Homo sapiens: one gene and its partners. The protein of the gene in region 3 interacts with the protein of the main gene of each other region in a pairwise test. Each region holds a gene or a part of one and is shown on either strand. Other genes may lie near its edges.

Region 1 (12,154 bases), on a different chromosome or scaffold from region 3:
ACCAACCCCCTTCCCAGCCCCACCCCGCCAGAAGAGCAGGCATTTACTAAACAGTAGCTAATGCAGACATAATCCAGGGGGTAGGGAGGCCCCAGAGAGGTAAAGCAGCTTGCCTAAGATCACACAGCAAGAGGGGGTAAATTTAGGACTGCAGCCCAGTCCCATTAGCCTGTCAGGCCCTGGCTCATACTAGCTCTGCCACTTCTGGCTGTGTGACTTTGAGTAAGTCACTGAGCCTCTCTGTGCCTCAGTTTTCTCCTCTGTAAAATGGGGGTTCTGGCTGGGGGTTGTGGCTCACAACTGTAATCCCAGCACTTTGCGGGGGCCGAGGTGGGAAGATCACTTGAGGTCAGGTGTTCGAGAACAGCCTGGGCAACATGGTGAAACCCCATCTCTACTAAAAATACAAAAATTAGGCAGGTGTGGTGTCAGGTGCCTGTAATCCCAGCTACTTGGGAGGCTGAGGTGGGAGAATCGCTTGTACTCAGGAGGCAGAGGTTGCAGTGAGCCAGGATCATACCACCACACTCCAGCCTTGGCGATAGAGACTCTGTCTCTAAATAAAATAAAATACTAAAATGAGGATTCTAATAATTCCTACATCAAAAAATTATTGTAAGGATGAAATAAGCCGATACATGTAAAGTGCTTGGTGGGCGGGGCTCTCGGTAAACATGACCTCTCTCTCCCACTTGGGATGAGCCCCCCCTCGCTCTCCCCACCACTGCCACCACTCCTGCTGCCCCGGACCCCCCAGGGACCCTATGCCCGCTTGTATGAGGTGGGAGGAGCCACTGGGTTTCAAAAGGCCATTTTTTTTGTTTTTTGTTTGTTGTTTTCTTTCACTTTTTTTTCCAGCACAGCTCACCTCGCACCAACCCCCAACACACTGAACTCACAGCTGGAGGCATTGTGCTCACTCCTCCCCAGAGAGCAGGAGGCTTCAGGTTCAAATCCCAGCCCTGCCTTGAGGATAGAGTCACAGCCCCCAGTAGTGATTCTAAAAGCCAAGTATTTGTTGCCCCCAGTTGACAGGTAAGAAAGCTGAGGGTCAGGGCAGGTTACAGCCTGCTACTGTCATGTGATGACCACTTTCATTGCTTAGCTCAAAACCCTCCTCCTCCAGGAAGCCTTCCCTGACCCCATCCATGCTCCCTCCCAGAAAGGTCCCATCTCCTGAGAGCTCACTACGTGGCAGGTGTGCTCGGTCTACTCAAGCAGCTCATTTCCAAGTCACAACATCCCTGTGAGGCTGACACCATTACTGTCCGCATTTTATAGACAAGGACTTTGAGACAGAAAGAAATCCCTCACTGGAAATCACACAGCAGGTGTCTGTCCCCAGAGCCCCTGGTACCTTGGGAGCTAACAGGCAGCATACAGCTGTGGTGTCCCTGTGCCTGTCCCCCAAATGCTGGAAGGGGAGATGGTTCACCCAAGAGCCTGGCCCAGAACAGCCCAGGGGCCCCCAACTTTCCATTTTTTTGGTGAGGACTATCTCATCCTGGAAACCCAAGGCTCACAGTCACCCAGGGGAGCCTGGAGGGGAGAAGAGCAGGGATGCTTGAAACAGGGTGAGGAAGGAACGGAAACCACCAGGCCTGGGGCTGAGCTTCAAAAGAATTCCCTACTAATTCCCCCACCCCACCCCACCCCCACCCCCACCCCCATCCGTACTCTCTCTCTCTCACAAACACACACACACACACACACACACACACACACGTCTCCCACCCTTCCACTCCCCACCCCTCCTGCCTTCCCAACCACAGTACAGCAACTTTGTAAAAGAACAAGAAATCCATATTTGTTGAGCCCTTAGTAGGTGCCAGCCACTGGGCTAAAAGCTTTCCAAATTAAGCCCTTCCATTCTCGCATTGTCTCCATTTTAAAGAGGTGGAAACTAAGGCACAGAGAGGTTAGGTAACTTTCACAAGGTCACACAGCCACAAGGTAGTGGTCTCCCATCACTGGGAGTATTCAAACAAGACTAACACCTAAGATCCCTTCCAGCCCTGGACTTTTGAAAGAACATGTTTCAAAAGCTAAAATGTTCAGGATCCTCACACTCCAAAACTTTGAGTGGTGACTTAAGTACAGTAGCTGAGGTGGCCTTAAAGGCAGATGTCCCTCAGAGTCCTGGTAACTTGGTCTGTCAGAAGAGGGACTCCTCAAAGGAGATGCCAGGAGACAGACACAGACACACAAACACACACACACACACACACTGCAATTCACCATCTGCAGTGTGAATGAGGCCTGCTCTCCCTGCTATCCCCATGCTGAAAGACACGAAGACACACACACACACACACACACACACACAAAGGCTGGCAGGTGACCCAAGGGTCATCATGTCCCTGCCCTTCCCTGCCCTGTGCCAGCCACCGCTCATCTACCAAGGCCACCCCTGGAGCTTCCCTGGCTGGGGCTCTTCTGATCTAACCTCAGTCCCTCCTGCTGCAGGCACTGCCCTCTCCCTCTGGTGCGGAACCCCGGCAACCAGGTACCACCCATTAACCCTTTTCCTCCCAAGTCAGATGAGGACAAGAGGGATGATGCCCCTCCTTGACAGCTTGACCCATGGGAAGATGTGAGGCCTGGAGGACACTCCACTTCCCACCACCTCACCAGGCGCCCCAGTACCTGCCCTCCCCCAGGCCCCACCCACCATTTCAGCCTCTGGGCTCAGACTCCCAGGGTCTGCTTGATCTGCCACCCAACACTGGGTCTGAGCCACACCTCTCAGATTCAGGTCACCCGTGTTGCGAGGCCCTACTGTGCATGAGGCTATTAAATGCTCTCACTAAGTCCTTCCACCACCTCGTGGAGTATGAATTATTAGCCTTATTCAGCAAGGAAAGTGGCCTGCCCAGCGCTCCACCTGGCCTCCAAGTCTAAAGCTTTCTGTCCTGAGCCCCTTTCATTCATGTGCACACCACATGACTCCTGAGCTCCTTCTCAGGACACTCGTCAGTCATCCCATTGAATTTTTGCCCTCTGAGGAAGGGGTCATTAGCCCCATTTCACAGAGGGACAACCAAGGGTCAGAGAAGTAAGAGGACCTGCCCAAACCATGCCACGAATCGGCGGGGGTAGCAGGATTGGAACCCAGGGTTGTGTGATTCCCAAGCCTTTGATTTTAAGGATGGTCTTTCAGAAATTTGGCTGAGAAGGCGACCCCAGCTGCTAGGGTGTGCTGGGTCTCTATCCCTCCCAGGGACCTCTTCCTCTCACCCCACTTAGGGGAGAGCTGGGAATGAGACATCCTGGCCAGCAGGCACTTCACACAGGTCAGCCCTCAACACTTCCCCTCCCTCCAGCTGACAGCCCCCTAGATGGGGAAGGCTGAGGAGGGGCCTGTCCATCCAAGAAGCAAGCTTGGAGCCCCTGCCTGTCCTCCTCCTGTCTTACTGACTGGCCCACTGAGGCTGGGAAAGGGAAGGAACTTGCAGAGGGCGGCTGGGCACCCAGTGTTGCTTGAGAGGCCTGGGTCCTTTTCAGCCTGGGGGATGCAGGACAGCATAGCTCCTGGAACCAACCTGGGAGGCTGGACCTAGAAATCCCCAGCCCGCCTGAGCCAGAACCTGGACACTTGTCCAACAAGAACTCATCTGGGGCCTGGATCCCTCAAAGGGGGATGAGGTCCTTCCTTTCTCTGCCATCCCTGACGGAGCTGGGACCAAGCATGGCTGCTACGGTCACTCAAAGGGACACTCAAGGGTCACCTCATACATACCATCACCTCCACCTGCACATGCTTGGTTCCCCTCAGGGGTCCTCGTCCTATGTCCAGGGTCCCCCATGCACCTGCATGCACACGCTGCTATGTGCACTCACACACATTCATGGGTCCAAGCACACGCCCACCAGAGGTCTTTCACACACACACCCTCACCCACTGCAGCCACACACGGCCATAGCCAACAGTGGCCCAGCCAGGCACAGGCACACATCATGCACAATGGGTCACCCTCCCACGACCACGGACGGGAGGGCACGCTGGCATCCACCCATGTGGCAGACACATCCTTCACCTGCACACGCCCCACAGGTCCCCGCACCCCTCACTGAGTTGGCCACACACGCCCACACACGCCCACACACAGGGTTACCCTCACTCCCCCCTCAGGTCACCTTCACCAAGTCACCCTCCACCTCCACCTCCCCTTCCCGGGCCCACTGCCCTGGCCGGCTGCCGCGACCCTGGGAAGAACCAAATGCACACCCTCCCCTCGGAAGGGGAACCGATCCGATTCCCAAAAAGTGGCCATGGTCTGGGCACACCCACGAGGCAAAAGCCAGGCTCACTCCCACCCCAAGACACACCCAGCCGGGACGGCGACCCCCAGCCCGCCGCCGGGTCCTTCTCGCGCCTCCCAGGCCAGCGCAGGGGTCCCGCTTCGTCCCCGGGGAGACAGTTCCCGGAGCCACTGGGAGGTGGGGGAACAGGGCTGAGGACCCGCGATCGGGTTCCCTCCCGGGATTCCCTCTGGGGAGGGGTCCCAAAAGGAAGGAGAGATGCGCCCCCCGAAGATGACCAGCGGCGGGGGCGGCCTCTCCCCGCGGATGCCAGCTAGGGGGAGATTCCGGAGGGGGGGGAGCAGGGTGCAGAAAGGGGCGCTCGGGGGAGGGTCGAGGGGTGGCAGGGACCGCGGCCCCGGGGGAAGCAGCCGGGGGGGAGGGAGCGGGGTCCCGGAGGGGGGGTCGCGGGCGGGGACCGGCACCCCGCGCGGGGGGCGGCCCCGGGGAGCCGTGGCGGGGATCCGGGCGCGTGTCACTCACCCCCGCGGCGCGCCCCGCCAGCAGCAGCAGCAGCAGCGGTGGCAGGAGCAGCCCGCGGGCCCCGGGCCCGGCCGCGGCCCCGGCCCCGGCGCCGGCCCCGTGGGCGGCCCCGGCACGGTGCGGCGGCCCCGGCTTCATGGCGGCGGCGCGGGCGCGGGCGGCGGGCGGCGGGCGGGCGCCTTTGTTCCCGAGGCGCGGCGCGCGGGGCGGCTGCTTGGCGGCGGCGCGGCCCGGCGGCTGGACCGACGCGCTCTAGGCTCGCGGGCTCCCGGCTCGGCCGCCCGGCTCCGCCTCGCAGCTCCGCGCCCACAGCGGCCGCGCCCGCAGGAAGCGTGCGCCGCCGCCGCCGCCGCCGGGCCGCCCCCAGCGCGGGCGGAACGGAGGAGGGGCCCGGGGCGGGGCGGGCCCCAGTGCGCCCCCCGCGGGGCTCCGCGCCCTCTGACCCCAGTCCCAGCCCCCGCCCCCACCCAGAGGGAGCCCCGCGCTGCCGAGTGGGCACCCGGACACCTGAGTGAGCAGCCGGCCTCGCCGATCCCGGGGCTGGAGGTCGCGGAGCCCGCCGGACGCACCTCCGCGGCCGCCGTGCTAGGTAGAAGGGAAGGGTCCCGCGTGGGATACCAGGGCCCGGGCCTGGCTCCCTGAAGTCGCCGAGCGGAGGGGTCGCATGGGCGTTTTCATCTACAGCCTCCCCCTGTGGCTCCACGCACGTGTCTCTTCCTGGACTCCCATCGTCACCCTCACACACTCAGCCAGTCCACCCAGTGGGCCAGAGGTCATCCAAGACCACGGGCTTTCATGCCTCCAGGACACCCAGGGGCTGTGTGACCTCAGATCAGGGCCCGGCCCTCTCTGGGCCTCGGTCTCCCCAGGGGACCATGGGGGTGGTCACTTCTGGGCCCTGTCACTGTGGATCTGCAGAGGAAAAGCCACGCAGACCTGAGCGCAGCTGCTTCCACACCAGCTGTGCGCCTCCAGCAAGGCCCCCAGTTCTCTGAGACTCAGACCCCCCATGGTTGAATGGGACCACCCCCTCCAGTGCAGGATGGCGAGAAAAGTACATCTCTGAGTGGCAGTCTCTAGCGCTGGTGGTCTTTCTACCCTGTGTGGTCACGGTGCCTTTTCCCCCTTCACCTTCATCCCCAGCGGCATACCCCATGCTGTTCTTACTTCTCCAAGTCTCCAATGGCGTGTTAGCTCCAGCGGGGGCAGGGTTTTGTGTCTGTCTTGTTCACTGCTATGTCCCCAGCACCAGCACAGAGCTCGGCATGACATCGATGCTCAATCCAAATTTGCTGAATCAATGAATGTGTTTCCCATTTACTGGGGCTCAAAACCAAGTGTTTTGGGGCAAGATAGGGGAGAGTGAAACATTTCTGGAACCCTGACCACATGCCAGGTGCCCAGCGCTTTCATGTGTTATATCATTTCTCAGGAACCCCATAAGGTCGGTCTGTCAATATCTTCACTTCTTAGGTGGGGAAGCTGAGAGCCAGCAAGAAGAGGTTATTTGCTGATGACAGCTGGCTGGACGTCTCTACCCTCAGTTACTCTCCTCTCTGGCCCCTGTGTCCCAGCACCCAGCTTAGAGCCTGCCATTAGAAAATAGGAATGAAATCAGGCCGGTCGTGGTGGCTCACGCCTGTAATCCCACCACGTTGGGAGGCCGAGGCGGGTGGATCACGAGGTCAGGAGATCCTGGCCAACATGGTGAAACCCCGTCTCTACTAACAATACAAAAAAATTAGCCGGGCGTGGTGGCGGGCGCCTGTAGTCCCAGCTACCAGGAGGGTGAGGCAGGAGAATGGCATGAACCCGGGAGGCGGAGCTTGCAGTGAGCCGAGATCGCGCCACTGCACTCCAGCCTGGGCGACAGAGCGAGACTCCTTCTCAAAAACAAAAAAAAAAAAAAAAAGAAAAGAAAAGAAAATAGGGGAACGAAATTGAGTTGAAACTGGAACAATTCCCTCAAGGAAAGGGGAACCAAAACCAGGATGAATGGAGGGGCAGGCCTTGAGGAAGAGACTCTGGGGGACCAGCCATGGGTTTTTGGTGTTGGGGGTAACTGTACTTGTCCTGCAGGGCCCTTGGGAGGAGGACCAGGGGACAAAGGTCAACTCAACATAAAGTAGAGATAAATTAGAAGGGGCTCCCCAGGAGGGAGGGAGAGCCCAGTCCCTAAAGGGTATGAAAGGCAAGCTCACCACCCTTTGACAGGGATCCTGGACAGGGAAGACAGGGAGACTTTCGAACTAGGAATTCTGAGGTCCCAGCCTCTGAAAATTCAATTCTCAAATCTTTTGGCATGACATCAATGCTCGATCCAAATTTGACTGGCACCTTGGGGAGATGGGCAGGGAGGCTGATGGGGTGCAATAGGTGGGAAACTGGTTTCTGTTGAGGTAGCACAGCTTGGAATTGAAGAGCTCTGGCTCTGGGTCGGCCAAGTATCTGGGTTCAAATCCCAGTTCTGCCAGTTATGAGCTGTATTGTGTTGGATGTGTGACTTAACCTCTCTGAGCCTCAATTTCCCAACTGTAATATAGAGATAATGACCACGCAGAGTTCATTCATTCATTCATTTAGCAAGCATAAATTGGGTGCCTGCTGTGTGCCAGGCCAGGTACCAGGTTGTGAGGATTACATGAGCTCTTCCCTGCCATCGTAATGGAGTTCAATGAAGGTGGCTGGGAATGAAGCTTACAAAGGAAGGGACTCAGATGTAGGGATAACATCATCCTTCAGAGATGCTGAGCAGATCCCAGGAACATACCAACCCTGAGGCGCTCCCAAAGGGCCAGCAGGGTTAGGGTGGGGATTATGAGGAGCCAGATGTCAGCTGGCCACAGACAGCAGTGGCAATTCTAAGAGGCAGTAAGTATCCTGTCTTGAGAGGTATTCAAGGCTCGGAGAACTATCTAGCAGGGAGACCATTAGGATGGTTTCCATGAGTAAGATGGGCAGTGAGCATGGCCCATCTTCAGAGGTTCCTGCCAGCTCTGAGACTTCTGGAAGCAGCAACTCCACTTCCCTGACATCCTGGGGAAGAGGTGGGGGCGGGGCAGTGGAGAATCTTTGGTCTGGACAGGCCAGGAGCGCCACCTGCTGCTCTTCAAAGACACTGGTCACAGCCAGAACTAAGACAGGTCTGGGCCCCTGAAGGTCCTTCTCATCTTGCTCCCCCCGGGTCCCAGGTCTCCCTGGGGTTCACAGATGCACACATTTCCTGCCCTCAAGCACATGGGTCATCTGCACAGTCACCCTTGCCCAGGCCTCCTTGTGCATTGGAGCCACATCCCCACATACTCAGGGTCTCCCTTCATAGCACCATAACCTCACCCACAGGCACCAGCTGCTGCCGCCTCCTGGCACAATAGTCACAGCCCCCTCCGGCCTTTAGAATACACACTGCCTCCTCTGGGAAGTCTTCCTGATGTCCTCTGGGTGATCAGGCCTGGTCCTGTCCTGCCGGCATCCTGATCACACTCATCCTGCACTCCCCACCCTGCTTTCAGTCCCTACTGTCTGTCTTGCTCAAAAGTGGGAGCATTCAGTATCCCAAATGAACAGTAGCTATAGAAGGGCCCAAGTGGAGCTGATTATGGGCCAGGCACTGCTCTATCAAATGCACACTCACATTAGCCCCATTTCCAGATGAAAAACCAATACACAGAGAAGATAGGAGATATGCCGAGGCACCACGACTGGCAGTGAGAGCTGAGATCCTGACCCAGGCCAACAGTTAAACTGCAATGCCAGGCCCAGTGGTGTATTGGGAGGCGTTTGATGAATGAATTAGAGTCACCGAGGGGATTCACACAGTCACACACCAACATGCAGACATACTCATGCAGTCTGGCCCCTGGGGAACCCCACAAGGCACGCCTAGTGGCTACATCTCAACCTTTCCACCTCACCCCCACCCCAGTCAGAGCCTTCTCTGCCCTTGACAGGGCCTCCTAGCTCTAACCAAGCAGCAGAGGGGTGGGGACGCCTCAGCGGCATCTCTGAACTCCACTCAGGTGAGCCTAAGATGCCTTATTCAGAGTGGCACGCCCAGGCCTGACACAGAGTGGGTGCTCAGTAGCTGTCACCTGACTCTACCTGTCCCCCAGGGGATTGGCTAAGACAACCAGCTCTCTGGACCTCAACAGTCCCATGGCATCCTAAAAGCCAAGATTGATGGAGGCCTTACTACCTGCCAGGCACTGTTCTGAGCACTTGCCAAACACACCCTCATCTACTCCTCCCCACAGGCCTGTAATTTGGGCACGACAAGCAAACTTGCCTCCCAGGGCTGCTACTATGAGAACCAAATGAGCGGCCAGCCCTGGAGTCCGGCACACAGTGAGCCCTGTCCAGGTGCTTGCTCTCTACTTCGTCCCATTTCACAGCTGGGGAATCTGGGGCTCACAGGAGTTCAATAATTTATCCCAGGTCACCCAGCCAGGAAGTGGGCAGCCAGGATTTGAACCAGGCATGTGATGACAGAGCCCTGGCTTTTCACCCTGTGCTGAGCTGTCCCCCGTGGGCAGAGGGGACTTTATGATCCTTACCAGACCTCCCAAACACAAGTGCTGTCTCAGCTCAAGGCAATCACAGGGCTTGCAAAACAAGTCCCGGCCTCCCCTCGCCACCCCCATCTCCATCCTGCTCCCTCCCCACCCCAACCATCTCCCACCACAACTTCCGGTCTTGCCCAAGAGTCAGGATGGAGGCCACAGCCCAGGCTTGCTTCTGAGAAAGTCCAAGTGACAGCAGTCTTGGAGGTCAGTGACCCCCAAAACTGAGGAACCAAAACAGGGCTCTGACAAGAGGGCTCCAGATCAGGAGGATCCCAAAGTCCTCCTAGGGGAAGCTGGGGAGACTCAGAAGCCATCTGGTGCCCCAGTGAGTGGAAATCTCACTGGGGAAGGATCTGCAAGGCCTGTGGCCGGACCAGGGTGACTGGGAGAAGGCTTGGCCTTCCCACAACAGGGGTCCTCAATCGTGGGGAGCCTCCTGCCCGCCGAAGGGACCTGGCCCATATGAGGGTCTCACAGAGCCATGCCCCGCCCTTAGTACAGAGCCAGGCTCGGCCAGCCTTCCCTGACCTCCCTGTGTGCTGGGAAAGTCCTTGTAGGGTGAGAGGGTAGGTGACACCCCAGGACACATGGCTGCTAGACACAGGTTAGGATTTGAACTCAGGCCTCTTCCAGGTCTGTGAGCTGAGGGTTTGCAAACTGTAGATCCCAAAGCGTTCCTGAGGGCTGGTGGATCCCCAGGTTCCTCAGGGCTGGTGTGCGAGGAGGGGGAGTAATCAGATTTTGTTTGAGCTCTGTGGCCTGTAGGTCACAGAGCAAGGCCTGGGCTGGCCTTGTAGGAGGGAAGAGGCTGTGTAGACTCAGCAGGGCCTGTGGCTGAAGAAGCCCCAGATTGGCAGTCGGGGAGGGGAGCTGCTTGAGGGGAGAGGAGAGCTCTGGGACTCCAAGCTGGGTAGGGGTGGAAACAAGGTGGGTCCCACCTCTGTAGGGTCTGAAGCTTATACGGTTTGAAGGGATCTCGAGTACACAGTTAGGAAGAAGGCTTTGGAAAGCGGCTGTGCAAATGAAGGGCCCTGAAGCATCAGCTTCATTTTATGGCAAATGTGCCTCTGAATGGCCACCCACCACCCCGCCAGATACTATCGCCTGAATCCAGCAAAGTCAGAGGTGGACTGGGCTGGGCGTTGGCTCACGCCTGTAATCGTAGCACGTTGGGAGGCTAGGGAGGGCAGATCACTTGAGCTCAGAAGTTCAAGACCAGCCTGGGCAACATGGCAAAACCCCATCTCTAAAAAAAAATAACAAAACAAAACAAAAGAAAAAAAACACGAGCCGGTTGTGGTAGTGGGCACCTGTGGTCTCAGCTACTCAGGAGGCTGAGGCAGGAGGACCACTTGAACCTGGGAGGCAGAGGTTGCAGTGAGCTGAGATCATGCCACTGCACTCCACCCTGGGCAACAGAGCAAGATCTTGTCCCACAAAAACAAAGGAAAAAACAGAGGGAGCCTGGGCAGGGAATGGCTACCTCCTCTCTGAGGGAATCTAGGAAGGCTTCATGGTGGTGGTGGCGACATCTCCCCTGGGCCATTGCAGGCAGGCCTTGGAGAATTGGGTGCTTTGAAATGGTCCTACAGGGGCTGAGCCCTACCTGGGAGGAGAGCCTCTAAGGCCCTGAGCTCCAGCTTGAGGCTTCATCCTGACATCGTGTGTGGACGAGGCTGAGAACATTCTGGAGGCTTGTTCCCTGTGATCTAGAATGGACAGAGCAGGCAGGGCCTACTTTAACTGCCCATTTCATAGAAGAGAATACTGAGGCCTTAAAACGGAATGTGACTGACCCCAAGGTCACATAATAAGCCTGTGGCAGAGCTGGGACTAGAACCCAGGTGGCTTCACTCCTTGCCCTGGGGCCTTTCTCTCTTCCACTCCCTTCTCCTGGACCAGCTGCTCTGTTTTGACAGAGCTCTTAGGATAAGCCCCCTCCCCAACCAAGGTCTTCATTCAAACCCACAGGCCGTCCCACTCTGTCCATCGAAGGTCACAGGACTAGGAAATGACCATTGGCAGAGCCCAGGCCCAGGAGCTGTGCTCACACACCTGCCCTCTTCTCTGTGCAGAGGTGGAGAAGCTGGGTGAGGAGAGAGGAGGGGAGGAGAGAGAAAGGGGAGGATGGGAGGAGGGCACTGCCCCAGAAGCCATTCCAGGAACACACCCCCGTGCCTGGGAATAAACTGCTCATTTAGAATCATTTTCCTGGAACCAAAAATATGCCTCCCTAAAAATATATTTTCTTTCTCACCTCATTCTGAGGCTGCAGCAGCTCAGCTGCCTCTAGGAGGTGGGTGGGGGAGAGTGACCGGGGCCTGTGGGGGGAGATCCCCCTTTCCCCAGGGCTGTGGATACTGACCACTGGGTCCCCCTCTCTGAGCACAGCTGTCATTGAGATATGCAGTACATCACATTTGTGTGTGTGTTTGGTTTTTTGGATTTTCGAGACTGTTGGACCCACATTCAAACTTCAACCTAGAGGTATCGAGCCCCAGCGAGGGCTGGGCACAGATCTGGACACTGAGGGAGCTCCCACCAAGGATGGGAGGCAGGCAACAGGCAAGCAACTGCACCAGGGGACACCTTAGTGCTGCCCTCGCCTCCTGTGTGCCTCTGAGCAGGTGCTTCTCCCACCCTGGGCCTCAGTCTCGTCATCTGCGAAGGGATCAGATGCGGGTAGCCACCCTGAATTCTCTGCGGACAGTCCTGCCGCTGGCCATGGTGGAGGGGAAGAGCAGCTGCCCTGGCAGCACTGACTCCAAAGAGAGGCCTGGGGCACTCGGGGCTCAAATTCTGGGTCT
Region 2 (7,330 bases), on a different chromosome or scaffold from region 3:
GTTTCCTTCCACACCAAAATTCTCCCACTCGGGTACAAGAACCCTGAAGTTCACTTCTGGTCTCTCAGGGGCATTGACACCCTGGGAGAGACTCCCTAACTCCCAAGTCTTTCTCTCCACCGAGATCTGAGCTCCCACTCATGCAGCTTCTCACCCTGCAGGTCCTGATGTGCGCAGCTTCATTGTTGGCCCCCCAGGCCCTCCTGGGCCGCAGGGACCCCCTGGGGACAGCCGCCTCCTGTCCACGGATGCCTCCCACAGTCGGGGTAGCAGCTCCTCCTCACACAGCTCATCTGTCAGGCGGGGCAGCTCCTACAGCTCTTCCATGAGCACAGGAGGAGGTGGTGCAGGCTCCCTGGGTGCAGGCGGTGCCTTTGGTGAAGCTGCAGGAGACAGGGGTCCCTATGGCACTGACATCGGCCCAGGCGGAGGCTATGGGGCAGCAGCAGAAGGCGGCATGTATGCTGGCAATGGCGGACTATTGGGAGCTGACTTTGCTGGAGATCTGGATTACAATGAGCTGGCTGTGAGGGTGTCAGAGAGCATGCAGCGTAAGTGGGGACATTTAGGCCTTGGTGCTGGGGGGAAGGAGCGTGGGAGCATCTCCAGACTGGCTTTCTTGTTTGTGGAACCCCCAGGCTGTGAAGACAGAATCAAGCAGGCAGGGGCTGGAGGGGACAGGCAGCCCCAGCCTAGCTCTCAGCCTACTCAGCTTAAGGAGCCCCAGTCCTGGGACCCGAGCTGTGGGGAACAGAGCACGCTGGGGGCTTTGTACTTTGTTTTCCCAACACCTAGCTCGTTCTGGGTCCCAGATGAGTCATATGACCATGCTGGATTTTCTGCTGGGGCCGAGAGAAGGATGTTGGCTAAGAGTCCTTTCCCCGCGCAGCTTAACGGCACAGTTACGCAGTCAACAAGCTTTTGATGCCGGCCCACAGCAGGAAGAGACCTGTGCCAGTCACACAGTGGAATACAAAGGAAGTTGGAGGGCTTCACCCTTGCTGCGGCTTGATCTAGTTCAACTGCTTTGGGAGTTTGACACTCGGAGGGCACTGTGCTCCTGCTGAAGAGGGTACTGGGAGATCCCTGCTTCCTGTGCCCAAGCTCTGGTGTTTTACAGGTCAGGGCCTACTGCAAGGGATGGCCTACACTGTCCAGGGCCCACCAGGCCAGCCTGGGCCACAGGGGCCACCCGGCATCAGCAAGGTCTTCTCTGCCTACAGCAACGTGACTGCGGACCTCATGGACTTCTTCCAAAGTAAGGGCATCCAACTGCTTTCCCAGCACCTGCCTCACTGCATAGGTTCCCACGGGTCTGCTCCAGAGACACCAGTCTCATGAGAAATCTCCAGTTATTAACATTTGAGATGCTCAAAATTAGACAAATTCTATAAATTCTGAACTTTGTTTCCTCTTACACGTCCAAACTCCATCACTATCTCTCTGTGTTACTCTGAACAAATGACTTGATGTCCCAAGCTTCCAGGTGATCAAGACTCTAAGGCCAGTGTTTCCTTGCTTTTGCAGCTTATGGAGCCATTCAAGGACCCCCTGGGCAAAAAGGAGAGATGGGCACTCCAGGACCCAAAGGTAAGTGGTGGCAGAGAGCCAGTCCCTGGATCCTGTGTTAACACCCACCTCGTACTGAAAAGCAGCTCCTGTGCTGGTGCCACACCGGCTACCTGTGCCCTCAGTCCCCAGACTCATGTATTACTTAGTTACGCCCCATTTTTCCTTCCAGGTGACAGGGGCCCTGCTGGGCCACCAGGTCATCCTGGGCCACCTGGCCCTCGAGGACACAAGGGAGAAAAAGGAGACAAAGGTAAGTGTTGACTGCTCCACGTTTTGCATGTTCTGGAGGGCTGCAAGGCTGACGCTCATTAGAGAAGCAGGTGATTTGTTCCAGAGCAAGCCTGAGAAATTCAGGCAAATGCCAATTACTCCAGGCAGACACTGCCAAAAGCAGAATTTGCATAACAATCCCATTCACAGTGAGGAAGAAAAGGAGAGTGTCAAAGCAGGGAGGAAAAGGAGAACCAAGCTGGTGTTGAAATGGGGCAAACAAGTTAAATAAATGTAGTCTTACAAAAGATTTCACCTTTGAAGCCATCTTTGCAGTAGTCACGGTTGCCATAATTGCCCAAGCCAAGATCCCCACAGGCCACAAGATATGTTTTAACTTCCTACTGATCTTCTAACTTTCAGGTGACCAAGTCTATGCTGGGCGGAGAAGGAGAAGAAGTATTGCTGTCAAGCCGTGAGCTAGCCATGGCAGGACAGCTCCTGGACCAGGTCTCATAATGCATGTGGCACTTAGGTCCAAGGTCTCCAGAGGGTGAAAGCTGGAGTCTGTCAATGTCCTACTGAGACAGCACAGCCAACCTAGCTAGCAACATTTGTTTTAGTCTGAACAATATATACTTATAGAATTCAGTCAAAGATACACAATCTGAAACAGCTTCATGGGGTGGACTCTAACAGTAGTTGCAATGTTTTAGAATGAGACTTACTTCTCTGCTATCTAGATCTGAACTCCTTGGCTTCTTTACTTAGTTCAAGCCCCAGCCTAGGAAAGCCAGTTACATAAAAGTTGGCTCAGGAGTCTTAGAGCTTTACCTAAATATGAGCCCAGAAAACGGAGGATGGGGGTGGGGCGCCTTCCTGGAGGTGACACTTGATGGGGGTGTGTTCTGGTTACTGTTCTAAGGCTGTGCCATCAGCTCCTTCCTCCCCTGTTCATTCTGCATTCTCTAGTCAGTTGGCTAAGAAGTGACTCTTGCAACTAAAAAAATTAAGAAATTCACTTCCCCTCTAGGAGGTGATGATAGGGTTTCTAATGGTTATATGTATATCACATTCCCATTTGCTTAGAAAGTCTGATTGTAGCTATGATTGTCCGTAGGCCCATACTAGAGTTCATGGATATGTTATACTGAACCAGGCCAGAGCAAACAGAAAAAGAAGGTTGAGGGCAATGGACAAGGAAGGAATAAAGGGAGAAGAGGGAAAACAGAAAACCTGATGCTGGGGACACAGCATCAGCTCAAGACGTCACCCTCCATTCTGCACTCAGAAAATGGCACTTGGGGGACTGGGCGCAGTTGGTCTTTAACCACTTTTCAATGTCTAAAAACATTTGTTTGTGGTCTATAAGATGAAACATCATTTCAATCGTAAAATTTCCCATTAAAGAAGTTTTTTTTTCTAATATCATGTTTAATGTGATTCGTCTGACCAAAGAAAGATTAAAAAATAGTCTGGGTTAATTGGGTCTGATTCTAACACTGTTTATTACAAACACAAGAAAACAAAAGTGGTTGTATTTTGGGGCATAGCTTCTGGTATTTCATTCAATCCCTGAGGTCTTCAAAGGCAAATCTTTAGATACCTGCAACTATGAACTCAATCTGGGGATTTTACAAAGCACATGAAAGTTTTCCCCAAGCATAAGTTATTTGAAATAAACATGCAACAAATGAGCAAGAAGATTACTTGCAATTAGGTAGTGCTTTATCCTGGGGCAATGGAATTATGATTGTAGGGCAAGTAATATATGGAATATAGAAACTTCTATTAAAGAAAAATGTACAAATCTCAAATGCCCCAAAGAAATGCACAGTAAAATCAGACACTCCAATTGAGAAGAGACTCTACTTAGCCACTTTGTGAATTTGTTACAAGTTGTGACTCTCAAATTGCTGGATAATTAAAAATGGGATTAAATTGCATCTATTTCTACACCACTACTCTTCTAAAAAGACTTTATTTTCCATAAGGTCTCTGCTGAGTATCTCATATTATCCCAGAAAAAACACTCCACTTGTTTCCTCTATATCAAACAACCGCTAACGGCAACAACCAGTCAAGCACTACACACTCTACGTGGTCTTTTTGCCTCTTTTATTATATCCTGATAATTGCCTGCTATGAATTAATGAGAATTTTTTAAAAATAAGGCTGGGCGCGGTGGCTCATGCCTGTAATCCCAGAATTTCGGGAGGCCGAGGCGGGCAGATTGCTTAAGCCCAGGAGTTCGAGACCAGCCTGAGCAACATGGCAAAACCCCATCTCTACTAAAAATACAAAAAAATTAGCCGGCATGGTGGCGGGCACCTGTGATCCCAGCTACTCGGGAGGCTGAGGCTGAAGAATCACTTGAACCCAGGAGGTGAAGGTTGCAGTGAGCTGAGAACGTGCCACTGCACTCCAGCCGGCAAGACTCCATCTCAAAAAATAAAACAAAAATAAAATAAAAATTAGTTCATACAGCCTCCAGATTTCAAACAACTTGAGTTTTACTAAGCAAAACTATTGTGTATAATAAAGGAATTGTGCTTTTTAAATAATTTTTTTTCAAAAGAATTCATTAGTTTTACCCAAAGGCTGAATTTTTTACTTTTTAATTGTAGCTTTTACACTTATTAAAAGTAACTTCCAAAAAAAGGGGGGAAAAAGATGTTTTGACCCTTTAAAAAAAAGTAGCTTTAGGGGTTCAAGTATTATATCCCCTTTAATAGTGATCCTTATCTTGATTAATCAAGACATAGGAGTTTTTTCCTTGTTACTAGATCTACCTAAGATACCCAAAGTCTTCATCAAGTTTTAGCTCAAGTAAAATAGGGTACAAGTCCAAACTTACTACCTTCTCTGGACAAAACTCAGAAAGAGGATGGGCAGATATGAGGTTATGTCCTCAGCTGGATGGCAATGGATGTTAGCCTCTTTTGTTTCATTTTTTTTTTTTAAGTCAAGAATGAGCTCAATAGTGCACAACGCTCCCAGATTAGAAAATGACACTCCATGCCTCCCTCCAGCTGGACACGTGCCGAGTGATGCTGCCTAGCGTCTACTGAATCTTGCATGAACGTTATCAATGACGAAGAGACTATTTTTGCAGAAGTGAGGTCATATGATTTGTGAAATGCTTGGTGAGAAAAATCATCCATCCCAAGAGGAAAAGAAATTAAAAACATACACATATATACATAGGCTGATAGAAATATTTTAAGCACCTCCCAAAGGAGGGGTTTGCATTCTGAAAGACAACCCCCAGCAAGTTATCACTAAAAACTACATTTGAGTGTGTGTGTGTTTGCGTGTATGCTGTGGACTACACACAGCTAGGAATACTAACTCTGGAAGGGTCAGAAGACCTGCGGGGACTGCAAGTTTTACAATATAACTAGGACCAACAACTGCAAAGTGTTCTCAGGCAGGACACTCCAGTTTCAAAGATTCTCAATAAAAGACTGCTTCCCAAAATTGATTAAGAAATAACTTTATTTTTCATGTGTCAATCCCATGATTGAAAAGACATGTTGCTCTCAAGTAGATAAGAGGCATAATCTTAAACAAAATTCTTTCTGAAAATTTAGCTTATGAACTCATTACACTGCAAACCAGAGAAGGAGCACAAAAAGCTGCAGCCCACATTGAAACCTGGCAAACACTCTCCGCCAAAATTAGTAGCAGGAATGTTAAAGCTTTATCAAAAACATGTCAGCAACGGAATAGCAACAATACAGCCATTAACTGTTGTGCCTTCAACTTAAGAAAAGCATTTAAAGAATCACCCCATTTCTTATAAAAATCATTTCTCAGAAAAGAATTGTTAATCAAAAGACTATTAGAACTGGAACTCTCTTCTTTCACTTCAGTTCTAGATTTTCTTTAATCAACAATATCTCTAGTTAATACTTGGACAGAATTTGGCTTCTCAGAAGAGTCTTTGTCATTTAAGCACAGTGTGGAATGGGAAAAAGTGTATAGTTACAAGGAAACTAGAAGAGTACAAAAAAATAGTCACTTCTGAAACTCGCTGATGCTCAAGAAATCAGAGACCCTTCATTAAGGTGGGTCTCATATGCCTGAGAGCTTTGTGCTTGAGGAAGTATGACTTAGAGGTAGCTCTGGTTCTGGTAATTTATATTTAATTATAATTTGCTGTATCCTGTCACAAGAGAGTTCTAATATTTTCAGCAAAGTAAAAGCATTCAACATTTTTTCCTTACCCACCCTATAGCTTCCCCATAGAAAAAGATAAGAAAAAGCTTAATGTGACTCCACATAGAATAGCAGCTAATTCAGCAATTCGCACTGTATGGTTGTTGACAGGACTAGGAAAGGCAGCCTAGTGCCCCAAGCTGTAGGAGCTGGATCTGCAGAAGTGTGCAGGTCTGCTGTGTTCACAGCACTCAGGGAAAGAGGGGAGGAGGTGGCTGATGAGGGTGCACGTTCGGAGAAGTCTGTATGTGTTTCATGGCATATTCTGCCACAGCAACAAAACAACCAAATCAGCAGTAGATTTGACTGTACCCTTCGATTTCAAAGAAGTCTGCGCCCCTCGCCCACTCGCCACCTACACTTCATGCAGGAAAGATAGATCACTATCATCTATTTGAATACAGGGCCTCAGAAGAGGTGGGCTGGTATGGGTACAAACAGCGTATTTTATAACAAAACACTTTTTGAAAAGATTTATATAACTTTAAGTATTAAAATGAATGCTTTACCTCTACATATGTATCACTGTACAGTCTTGCACCCACACGATTATGGTCATATTTGAAAGCGAACTCAAGCACAAACACTGAATCCAAAAGGCAGTTTTAAGGGAGATCCAACCTTACCCACAGCGCCAACCATTCCACTCTGAGCCTCTCTCCTTGAGTCAATAATCTGAATGTCAAGTTGAAAGGAACAGAAAGAATCAAATATTCAGACCAAATTAATCAGGCACCACACACTATTTAGCGCACAGGGTATCAATTAAATGATACTAGAAAAAAAATGTCTACTGCCTGAGGTATTCATTTTTTAAAAGTCAATAAACTGAAAATTTCAAAGGAGAAAGTGGTATGAAGACGTTCCTTCCCAATCCCTCTTCAAATAAATCATTAAATACACTGGGCAACATTATACTGTCATTTTTATCATAACAATATAAACAATTTTTATCATCATCCTGAATATTACTTTATAAAGATATATATTTTAAAAGGCTTTCAAAACATTTTTCAACCCAGCATTTGAGAATAAAGCATTAAGAGTTTTGTATACAGTAACACATTCATGTGATAAGTGTATGAATTTACAACCATACATAATATGTATATATGTATATATATTTATATAAAAAACAAACTTGGCCAGAAGTTAAGGCTACCTACGAAGTTGTCCAAGTAAATTATGCTTGTCAAAACAATTATAAAATTCAAATCACACATGCATTTTTAAATCATCTAAATCACTGACAAACAAGGTTCAGCATCCAAAGTTTTCAAATTAACTGCAAGAAAGTGCTACAGACATTTACATTTTCTAAATATGA
Region 3 (9,718 bases):
GCCACCCTGAGAGGCAGACGCCATCCCGGCTCCAGGCAGGGCTTGCTCTATGCGGTGCCACAGTCCATCTGGGGCTGGGGAGTCCCTGATTTTCCTTTTCTCTTGGCCAAGCACAGGCCTGCCTTCCTCCCAAAGTCAGCCCCAGGCGCCTTCCTTCAGGAAGCTCTACAGGCCTCACCCACCAGCCCCAGGGCTGTGCCCAACACTGCCACCTCCTGCAGCATCCGCCCTCTTTCCCATGGCTCAGCCTCTGGGGTGGCCCTCTGGCTGGGACTGGGGCTCTGGGGCTCCTGGTGACTCCCAGGAGCAGGGACAGGGCTTCTCCTCTGCCCCCATGGCCTTGCCACACCCTGAGGACAAGGACCAGGCACAGGTGGCATGGTTGTTGCTGTCCGAAACAGAGCTGGCAGTGAAGGCTTGGAGTCTCCATCCTGGGGGCTGAGGGAAGGACAGCAGGAGGGACAGGAGGGGAGGTATGTCTGTCTACTCGACCCTGATTTCTCAGGGAGACAGAACAGCCAAGGGCCTGGGGTCCCCAGACTTCTGGCCAGCTGCCTCTCTGGGGCGAGGAAGGGCCTGGGTCCCTGAGGGGAGGAGATGTGACAGCGGGAGAGGATAGTGGACAGGAGCAGGTGTGCCCAGAGGGGTCCCCAGGGGTTGGGATGGGGGCCAGGGGAGCTCTGAGCCTGTGGGTGGGTGGGCATGGCCTGTGTGTGTGTGTGTGTGTGTGTGTGTGTGTGTGTCCCTGTGGGGGGGAAACTGCCTGTGCTGCAGTGTGATGGCATTCAGGGTGGCAGTCACACACTCCAGGGACCTGCTGGTACATAAAGTCGGGGCAGCCTGGTGGGGTCCGGGCCGCCTGGAGAGTAGGTGTCCTGAGCGCTGGGCCCAGCCCATCGTGATACATCTAATGATAAACACAAATTCCTAACTTTTATGGGAAATCTCGTTGTTTCTAACATTGGCTCCTACTTTTAAAACTTTCTAAACAAATGAAGCCAAACACTCTTGGGTGCCTCGCCAACCCTCTAACTGCCATTTTGTAGCTTCTGCGTGGAGGCTGCCATGGAGGTTAAAGGCAGGGCCTGCAGAGCAGGGCCCTGTCCTGGCCCTCCCAGTGCTGTCCGCGGGATGGGGAAGTTCCACAGCCTTCTGTGCCTGGTCTCTCATCTGGGAAACGGGCAGAATGAAATCATCTCCCGCCGGGCTCCTGTGCTGAGCAATCTCCTCCGTGAAGCCCTGGGCTCATATGGCAGTCACAGTGTGGGAATCAGCACTGCCTGAGGGGCTGTGGCCAGGGACAGTGGGAGGAAGAGCTGGGCTCAGCTCTCCAGGCCTGTACCTGCCTGTGTAATGATGCCTGGGAGGCCTGAGCCTGCAGCCTGTATTGTGTAGCATGTGGGTGTGGCGGCTACACCCCGAGGCTGCAAGGAAGTCATTTCCCTCTAGGAACCCTGCTGTCCCCACCCTTTCCCTGCTGGCTCAGGGCTGCCTCCCAGTCCCTGTGCCACAACAGGTCTGACCTGCATGTGTTGGCGCTGCTGTGGCCTCCTCCAGGCTGCACGCCTTAGAAGCAGGCTACGCCTTCCTGCCCTTGGCCTGAGAAGGGCTTCTCCAGCACCTCGGGGACCCCAGCCCCCAGACCCTGGGGTGGCCACTGCCCCAGAAGCCGGGCTGAGACAGGATTCAATGGGGAGGGCCCGTGGGCAGGGCAGAGGCTTGGGCCCCTGGGAGACCTGGCCCTAGAGAAAGAGGCGCGGTGCTCACCTTTGCCCCGGCCTTGCAGGCCTGGATGGCTCTGCCGCCAGCCTCTTTTCTTGTCCAGGCTTCAGGCTGAGCATCTCTTAGAGGGCCTCAGGGATGTCCAGTCCTGCCCTGAAGGCCGCTGAGGACTTAGGATGGTTTAATACTGAACCCACAGCCGCTGGGGACGCCTTGAGGGGAGCCACAGTGTGTGTGCATGTCTCACTCTGGGCTAACTTGTGAAAGGGTGAACAGCTCAGGGGCCCAGAAAACTTAACTCTGGGGCAGGCAGAGGTACAGGGGAGGGCAGATGATTCAGACCCCACCCTGATGGGCCGGGCAGTCACTGCAGAACCCAACCCGGTGCAGTAAGCCACTGCGGGCAGCTGTGGCCCAGCCCCAGGCCCCAGATATTGGGAGGGGCCCCTCTCCTCCCGGCTGTGCCACCCTCACCAAAGGGTAAGTGGGCCAGGACAGAAGGAGCAGGAGGCAGAGCTGCGGCCCCCTCTCAGGGAGGCACCCTCATTGGATGACCCTGTCATGGCCAAGCCTGACCCAGGCTCACTGGGAGCTAAAAGGCAAAGAAGAATAAACCCACATCTGCCCTCAGGGAGCCCAGTGCTGAGAGGCCTGGCACTGGGACAAACTCGCAAACCAGAGTCCTTGAGGGCTGGAGGGGGCCTCCCGGGGCAGGGCATAGGCCACTGCAGGGATGGCACGGAACAGGGCAGCGGAAAAGGCAGGAGTCCGAGGCCCAGGGCCCTGCCTCTGGCGGCTGGGCGCCCTTGGTCACATTGTTGGTGCTCAGAGCCTCAGTTCCCACAGCTGTGCAGCGAGAGGAAGCTGACGGCACCGACCATGGCTGTGGAGGCCTCATGTGTCAATTGTTGCTGTTCTGCAGGAGGAAGAGGATGGCAGGGCCACGCCCCAGCCCATGGGCCAGGCTGCTCCTGGCAGCCTTGATCAGCGTCAGCCTCTCTGGGACCTTGGGTGAGTCCACGTTGCCCTGCAGCCCCCTCCTGGCAGGATCATCCCTTGGGCAGGCATTGCCCTTGCACGGGGATCTCACGGTGTCTCACCTAAACACGCTTGGCCATTCAGCAACTGACCACTGCCCACCTTCAGGGCTGGAAAACTTGAGGCTCCAAGCTCTTCAGCCTAGAGAAGCTTGAGCCCTGACCACGGGGCCTGAGAATAGGAGCGAAGGAGGCTGTGTCTAGAGGAAAGAGGAGACACCCACCCAGGACTGAGGCACCCAGAGGATGCACTGAGGCCCCAGAGGTGTAGTCAAGAGGGTTATAGGAATTTGGAGAAGAGAGGCACTGCTGACGTGTCACTTGCTCTCTGAGTGTCACTAGTGGACAAATCACTGGAGCCAGCTCCTACCACTTGAATTTTGTCTGTTAGAGGGGGTCCTGCTGGTGGCTTGAAATAGACCACGACAGAAATGTTTACACCACAGAAATTGGCAAACGCTACACGTCAAGCACCAGAGACCAGAGCCGTTGTTATTTTTTTATTTAATTCAATGTATATGTAGAAACATGCTCTCACTCTGTCGTCCCGGTGAAATGCAGTGATGCCATCGTGGCTCACTGCAGCCTCAACTTCCCAGGCTCAAGCAATCCTCCCACCTTAGCCTCCCATGTAGCTAGGACCACAGGCATGCACCACCATGCCTGGCTAATTAAAAACAATTTTTTTGTAGAGACAGTCTCACTATGTTACCCAGGCTGGTCTCAAACTCCTGAGCTTAAGCAATCTTCCTACCTCGGCTTCCCAAAGTGCTGGGATTACAGGTGTGAGCCATCGCACTGGCCACCACAGCCATTGTTAAACACTGACCAGCACACCATTGCCTGAAGCCCAGGAGACCTCTTACTGTGTACACCAGGTGCACACAGTAGGTCCTCACTGTGATTTTTAACTGAGCAGAGCCAAAGGGAAATCTAGAGTTTTACTTCATTCGTTACTGAGGACCCACTGTGTGCCAGGTGTGCCGGGTGCTAGGGCTACCGTGATAAACAAGACACCATTCCCTTCACCCTAGAAGGGGCTCAGAGGACAGACAGGCCATGTGGCAGTGGTCTCGCCGTGAGGCACAAGCTGTGATGGAGGAGGTACCTGAAAAGGGTGCTAGGTGCAGCTCATCAAAGGTAATGGGGAAGGCTGAGGACCGTCTGGCTGGACCTGAGGAGGCAGCAGGCCAGGGGGTGGCCAGGGTGTGCCAGCACCGAGTGTGCCAGTGCCACTGTCTCAGTCCCCACCTTCTGTCCTTCTGGCTTGAGTGGGAAGTCCCAGGTTTGAAATCACAGCTTGTTTCTAGCTGTGCTACCTGGGGCAGATCACATACCCCTGGCCTCTGTAAAATAGGGAACGGCTGGGTGCAGTGGCTCACGCCTATAATTCCCAGCACTTTGGGAGGCCAAGGTGGGAGGATCTCCTGAACCCAGGAATATGAGACCATCCTGAGCAACATAGGGAGCCCCTGTCTCTACATAAAATAAAAAATTAGCTGGGCTACTTGGGAGGCTGAGGTGGGAGGATTGCCTGAGCCCAGGATGTCGAGACTGCAGTGAGCTGTGATCATGCCACTGCACTCCAGCCTGGGCGACACAGCAAGACCGTATCTCAAAACTAAATAAAATTGAAATGCAGGTTGGGCACAGTAGCTCACGCCTGTAATCCCAGCACTTTGGGAGGCTGAGGCGGGCAGATGATTTGAGGTCAGGAGTTCGAGACCAGCCTAGCCAACATGGTGGAACCCCATCTCTACTAAAAATACAAAAATTAGCCAGGCATGGTGGTGCCCACCCATTATCCCAGCTACTCGGGAGGCTGAGGCAGGAGAATCACTTGAACCTGGGAGGCGGAGGTTGAAGTGAGCTGAGATCGCACCACTGCACTCCAGCCTGGGCAACAGAGCAAGACTCGTCTGAAAAATAAAGTAAAACAAAATAAAAATACAACAACAACAACAAACCAAAATAAATACATAAGGCCGGGCCCGGTGGCTCCCACCTGTAATCCCAGCACTTTGGAAGGCCAAGGCGGGTGGATCACAAGGTCAGGAGATCGAGACCATCCTGGCTAACACGGTGAAACCCTGTCTCTACTAAAAATACAAAAAATTAGCCGGGCGTGGTGGCGGGCGCCTGTAGTCTCAGCTACTCCAGAGGCTGAGGTGGGAGAATGGCGTGAACACGGGTGGTGGAGCTTGCAGTGAGCCAGGATCACGCCACTGCACTCCAGCCTGGGCAACAGAGCGAGACTCTGTCTCAAAATAAATAAATAAATAACATAAGGAGGGAATCCCCATCTCTCCAGGTGAAGGTGCAGGTGGGAAAGTGCTTGCCTTTGCTGAGCGCCTCCCCATTCATGTGCCCACATCTGTCCCCCCAGCAAACCGCTGCAAGAAGGCCCCAGTGAAGAGCTGCACGGAGTGTGTCCGTGTGGATAAGGACTGCGCCTACTGCACAGACGAGGTGAGGACCTGGCCCGGGTTGGTGTGGAACAGGCAAGGGTCGGGAATAGCTGGTGGAAATGAATCTAGGGTTGGGGCAGCCAGGGAATGGGTGCTGCCCCCAGTGACCCCCTGTCCTTCTGGCCAGATGTTCAGGGACCGGCGCTGCAACACCCAGGCGGAGCTGCTGGCCGCGGGCTGCCAGCGGGAGAGCATCGTGGTCATGGAGAGCAGCTTCCAAATCACAGAGGTGCCTGGTGTGGGGACTGGGGTGGGGGCTCCCCATGCTCAGCCTGGCTATTTATGGGGGTGTATAGTGCCCCTTGGCCGGGCTGGGCCCCCATCGGGCCTCCGGAGTGACCCTCTAGCCAGCTGTCCCCTTCCACTGGCTGCAGGAGACCCAGATTGACACCACCCTGCGGCGCAGCCAGATGTCCCCCCAAGGCCTGCGGGTCCGTCTGCGGCCCGGTGAGGAGCGGCATTTTGAGCTGGAGGTGTTTGAGCCACTGGAGAGCCCCGTGGACCTGTACATCCTCATGGACTTCTCCAACTCCATGTCCGATGATCTGGACAACCTCAAGAAGATGGGGCAGAACCTGGGTACGGCAGGGCCAGAGTGGAGGACAGCAGGGCAGGAGGGGGACAGGTGGGCGTCTGCTTGGGAGGCCAGGACTCAGGACAGCTGCACCCACCCAGAAGGAAACACTGGACATTTGAGCCCCCAAAAACCTTCCCTTCCATTCTCAAGGGAAGAATCTCGGTCAGACCCTACTCACCACTGGGGACTTCTGAGAAGGCCCAGGGCAGGCGGGCAGTGGAGCCATCTGGCCCTGACAAGGAGGGCACCCCCTGCCACGAGGCTGTGGGGAAGCTTCTGCTCCTCAGAGCTGGGCTGCATTCCCAGCCACCCTGCCCTTGCTGTACGCATAACTCCAGACCCCCAGTCCCATTTCCCTCATCCATAAATAGGAACAGACAATGTTGTGAGCATGAACCTTTGTCCAGCATGCAAAGCGTTAACCTCCCTCTTCCTCCCTTCTGAGCCAGCCCTTGGTGGGGGGCCCGTGTTTATGCCAGGCATCAGGGCTCAGCTATCCCCTCTCTGTCCTTTTGACATCCAGCTCGGGTCCTGAGCCAGCTCACCAGCGACTACACTATTGGATTTGGCAAGTTTGTGGACAAAGTCAGCGTCCCGCAGACGGACATGAGGCCTGAGAAGTAAGTGACTGTGTGGGTCCCGCAGGTGGGCAAGGGTCCAGGCCATGTGACCCCCACTCCTCTTTCACCCACAACTTAAAATTATCCTTCTACGGCTGGGCACGGTGGCTCATGCCTGTAATCCCAGCACTTTGGGAGACCAGGGCGGGCAGATCACCTGAGGTCAGAAGTTCAAGACCAGCCTGGGCAACATGGCAAAACCCCATCTCTACTAAAAAATACAAAAATTGGCTGGGCGCGGTGGTTCACGCCTGTAATCCTAGCACTTTGGGAGGCCAAGGCGGGTGGATCACGAGGTCAGGAGATCGAGACCATCCTGGCTAACACGGTGAAACCCCGTCTCTACTAAAAATACAAAAGATTAGCCAGGCGTGATGGTGGGCACCGGTAGTCCCAGCTACTCGGGAGGCTGAGGCAGGAGAATGGCGTGAACCCGGGAGGCGGAGCTTGCAATGAGCCAGGATTGCGCCACTGCACTCCAGCCTGGGCGACAGAATGAGACTCTGTCTCAACAAAAAAAAAAAAAAAAAAAAAATTAGCCAGGTGTGGTGGTGGGCGCCTGTAATTCCAGCTACTTGGGAGGCTGAGGCAGGAGAATCACTTGAACCCAGGAGGCAGAGGTTGCAGTGAGCCAAGATCGTGCATACCGCACACCAGCCTGGGTGATAAAGCGAGACTTGGTCTCAAAAAAAAAAAAAAAAATTCTCCTTCTAGTTGAAACGAGCCAGGGGCACTGGGGTCTGCGGCGTCTTCCCCCTGTGACACTCTCTCTCCCTCCCACCTCTGCCCAGGCTGAAGGAGCCCTGGCCCAACAGTGACCCCCCCTTCTCCTTCAAGAACGTCATCAGCCTGACAGAAGATGTGGATGAGTTCCGGAATAAACTGCAGGGAGAGCGGATCTCAGGCAACCTGGATGCTCCTGAGGGCGGCTTCGATGCCATCCTGCAGACAGCTGTGTGCACGGTGGGCACTGGGAAGGGTGCTGCCAGCCTAGGCCAGGGGTGAGCACTTCTGGGCAAGGGCCTGAGCTGCCCCCTGGCCTGCTCTGGTGCCAGGCTCACAGGCCCTGAGGGAAAGCCTGGGAGCCTGCAACCCCTTCACCCTGAGACAAGCTCAGACTCTGTGAGTAGGTCTCAGTTACAATCTGAGTTCAGATGTGCCTGGAGCCACGGTCCCCTGGCCTGAGCAGTCACAGCCTGGTTTCGTATCAGCTACCAAGGCAGACCTGGGCTTTAGCGTTCTGGAATCTTTAGTACCCTGAACCCACCAGCTGCCCAGACTCCACCTGTTCTGGGCATCCAAATAAGCCATTTCCTTTGATATGTACATCCATTTGTTCATTCTGAAAATGACATACCCATATTACTAGGTTAGAAAACAAAGAGCTAGCCAAGGCGTGGTGGCTCACACCTGTAATCCCAGCACTTTGGGAGGCCGAGGCGGGGGGATTGCTTGAATTCAGGATTTGAGACCAGCCTGGGAAACATGGCAAGACCCTGTCTCTACAGAAAACACAAAAATTAGCTGGGTGTGATGCACGCCTGTGGCCCCAGCGCCTTGCGGGGGCCGCATCTCCAGCTCCTGTTTCTCAGCGTTGTCACTCAGTCATGTGCCGTCAGATGCATCTTTCATGAGGGCACTTGCTGTGAATCCAGTGGCTTAAGCCCAGCCCCATGTTGGGACCCGCGTTCCCCGTCCTACACGACGCCGTGATGCGTGTCAGCAGGCAGCCTGCTCAGTGGGCACGCCCCGCCTTGCCTTCCCCAGAGGGACATTGGCTGGCGCCCGGACAGCACCCACCTGCTGGTCTTCTCCACCGAGTCAGCCTTCCACTATGAGGCTGATGGCGCCAACGTGCTGGCTGGCATCATGAGCCGCAACGATGAACGGTGCCACCTGGACACCACGGGCACCTACACCCAGTACAGGACACAGGACTACCCGTCGGTGCCCACCCTGGTGCGCCTGCTCGCCAAGCACAACATCATCCCCATCTTTGCTGTCACCAACTACTCCTATAGCTACTACGAGGTGCGGGGCCCAGGTCCCACGGGTGGGAGGTGGTCAAGGTAGGGGGTCCATGGAGCTTCTCAGACACCTCTCCCTCCCTCCCTCCCTCCCTCCCTCCCTTCCTCCCTTCCTCCCTCCCTCTTTTCCTCCCTTTCCTTCCTCCCTTCCCAAAGCCTTTAGACCCCCCAAAATGTGGGCCCTAGTGGGAAGGGGAGGTCATGTGCCCATCTTCCACCCCAACTCCCAAGCAGGTGGGGGCTAAGAGGGCAGGCTCTGCGACACCACAGTAGGTTCCAGGCCTCAGTTTCCCCATCCTCAAAGTGGGAAGAATCCTAGAGCTGTTCAGATTCATGGAGATGCTTAGCCTGAGACCTGGCCTTCTCTCCCGCAGAAGCTTCACACCTATTTCCCTGTCTCCTCACTGGGGGTGCTGCAGGAGGACTCGTCCAACATCGTGGAGCTGCTGGAGGAGGCCTTCAATGTGAGGGCAGCTCAGGCTCCAGAGTCTGAGCCCTTCTGGGGCAGGGCAGGAAGTGGGCAGGGTGGGCAAGAGGTGTCTTGGATCACGGTGGAGAAATGGGTCTGGGACAGACCAGTGAGGAAGGGTCTCTAGCTATCCCTGAGGCCCCGAGGGGCCACCTGGGCCTGGCCCTGGCTCCTGCAGGCTCTGTGATACCCCGCATGATGCCAGCCACACTTGGAGGTTGGGGTGGAGCACAGAGGCCCCCCACAGAGCACTGATCAACCTCCTTCCTCCTTTAGCGGATCCGCTCCAACCTGGACATCCGGGCCCTAGACAGCCCCCGAGGCCTTCGGACAGAGGTCACCTCCAAGATGTTCCAGAAGACGAGGACTGGGTCCTTTCACATCCGGCGGGGGGAAGTGGTACGCCTCTGTGGGGGCAGCGGGGTGGGGGATAGGCACAGCGCCCCACACCGAGTGGAATCGTTTAAAACAGCGGTCAAGAGCGTGGCCCCTGGAGTCAGGCAGGCCTGGGTGCAGATCCCTGGGCCTAGCCGCTCGGATGAGCCTAGGTTGCTCCTCTGCTTGTTGGTTTCCTCGGCATGCAAGCGTCGAGCCCGGAGGCTTGCTGGGGCAGTAAATGGGTTAGTGTCACGAAGCCCAGAGGCCCTGGCCACTGTCATTGTCGCTATGATTGTGACTGCGCTGGGAAGGAGGGAGTTTCCAGCCCTGAGGGAGGTGAGCAGGAGCTCATTTCAGGGATCCAGACATCTCCTAGGAACTTGGGGGCCGAGGGCCTTCAGGCATCGATGGCCCCCTGGT

Evidence for each region.
Region 1: the proteins of ITGB4 (region 3) and SDC3 interact in a two-hybrid assay, tested with the Homo sapiens proteins (one study listed by BioGRID).
Region 2: the proteins of ITGB4 (region 3) and COL17A1 interact in a two-hybrid assay, tested with the Homo sapiens proteins (one study listed by BioGRID).

What each region holds. Positions count from the first base shown.
Region 1 is NC_000001.11:30,903,664-30,915,817, forward strand, and holds the start of SDC3 (syndecan-3), read right to left. Parts: upstream 5,096-12,154; 5' UTR 4,924-5,095; coding exon 4,786-4,923; intron 1-4,785. UniProt on the Homo sapiens protein: Cell surface proteoglycan that may bear heparan sulfate. May have a role in the organization of cell shape by affecting the actin cytoskeleton, possibly by transferring signals from the cell surface in a sugar-dependent mechanism.
Region 2 is NC_000010.11:104,027,166-104,034,495, reverse strand, and holds the end of COL17A1 (collagen alpha-1(XVII) chain), read left to right. Parts: intron 1-161; coding exon 162-551; intron 552-1,120; coding exon 1,121-1,258; intron 1,259-1,527; coding exon 1,528-1,590; intron 1,591-1,741; coding exon 1,742-1,822; intron 1,823-2,205; coding exon 2,206-2,261; 3' UTR 2,262-3,210; downstream 3,211-7,330. UniProt on the Homo sapiens protein: May play a role in the integrity of hemidesmosome and the attachment of basal keratinocytes to the underlying basement membrane. The 120 kDa linear IgA disease antigen is an anchoring filament component involved in dermal-epidermal cohesion.
Region 3 is NC_000017.11:75,722,050-75,731,767, forward strand, and holds part of ITGB4 (integrin beta-4 isoform 1 precursor), read left to right. Parts: intron 1-229; exon of another isoform or gene 230-378; coding exon of another isoform or gene 379-473; intron 474-2,644; coding exon of another isoform or gene 2,645-2,654; coding exon 2,655-2,733; intron 2,734-5,145; coding exon 5,146-5,228; intron 5,229-5,354; coding exon 5,355-5,456; intron 5,457-5,601; coding exon 5,602-5,806; intron 5,807-6,327; coding exon 6,328-6,424; intron 6,425-7,215; coding exon 7,216-7,387; intron 7,388-8,191; coding exon 8,192-8,455; intron 8,456-8,825; coding exon 8,826-8,915; intron 8,916-9,196; coding exon 9,197-9,319; intron 9,320-9,718. UniProt on the Homo sapiens protein: Integrin alpha-6/beta-4 is a receptor for laminin. Plays a critical structural role in the hemidesmosome of epithelial cells. Is required for the regulation of keratinocyte polarity and motility.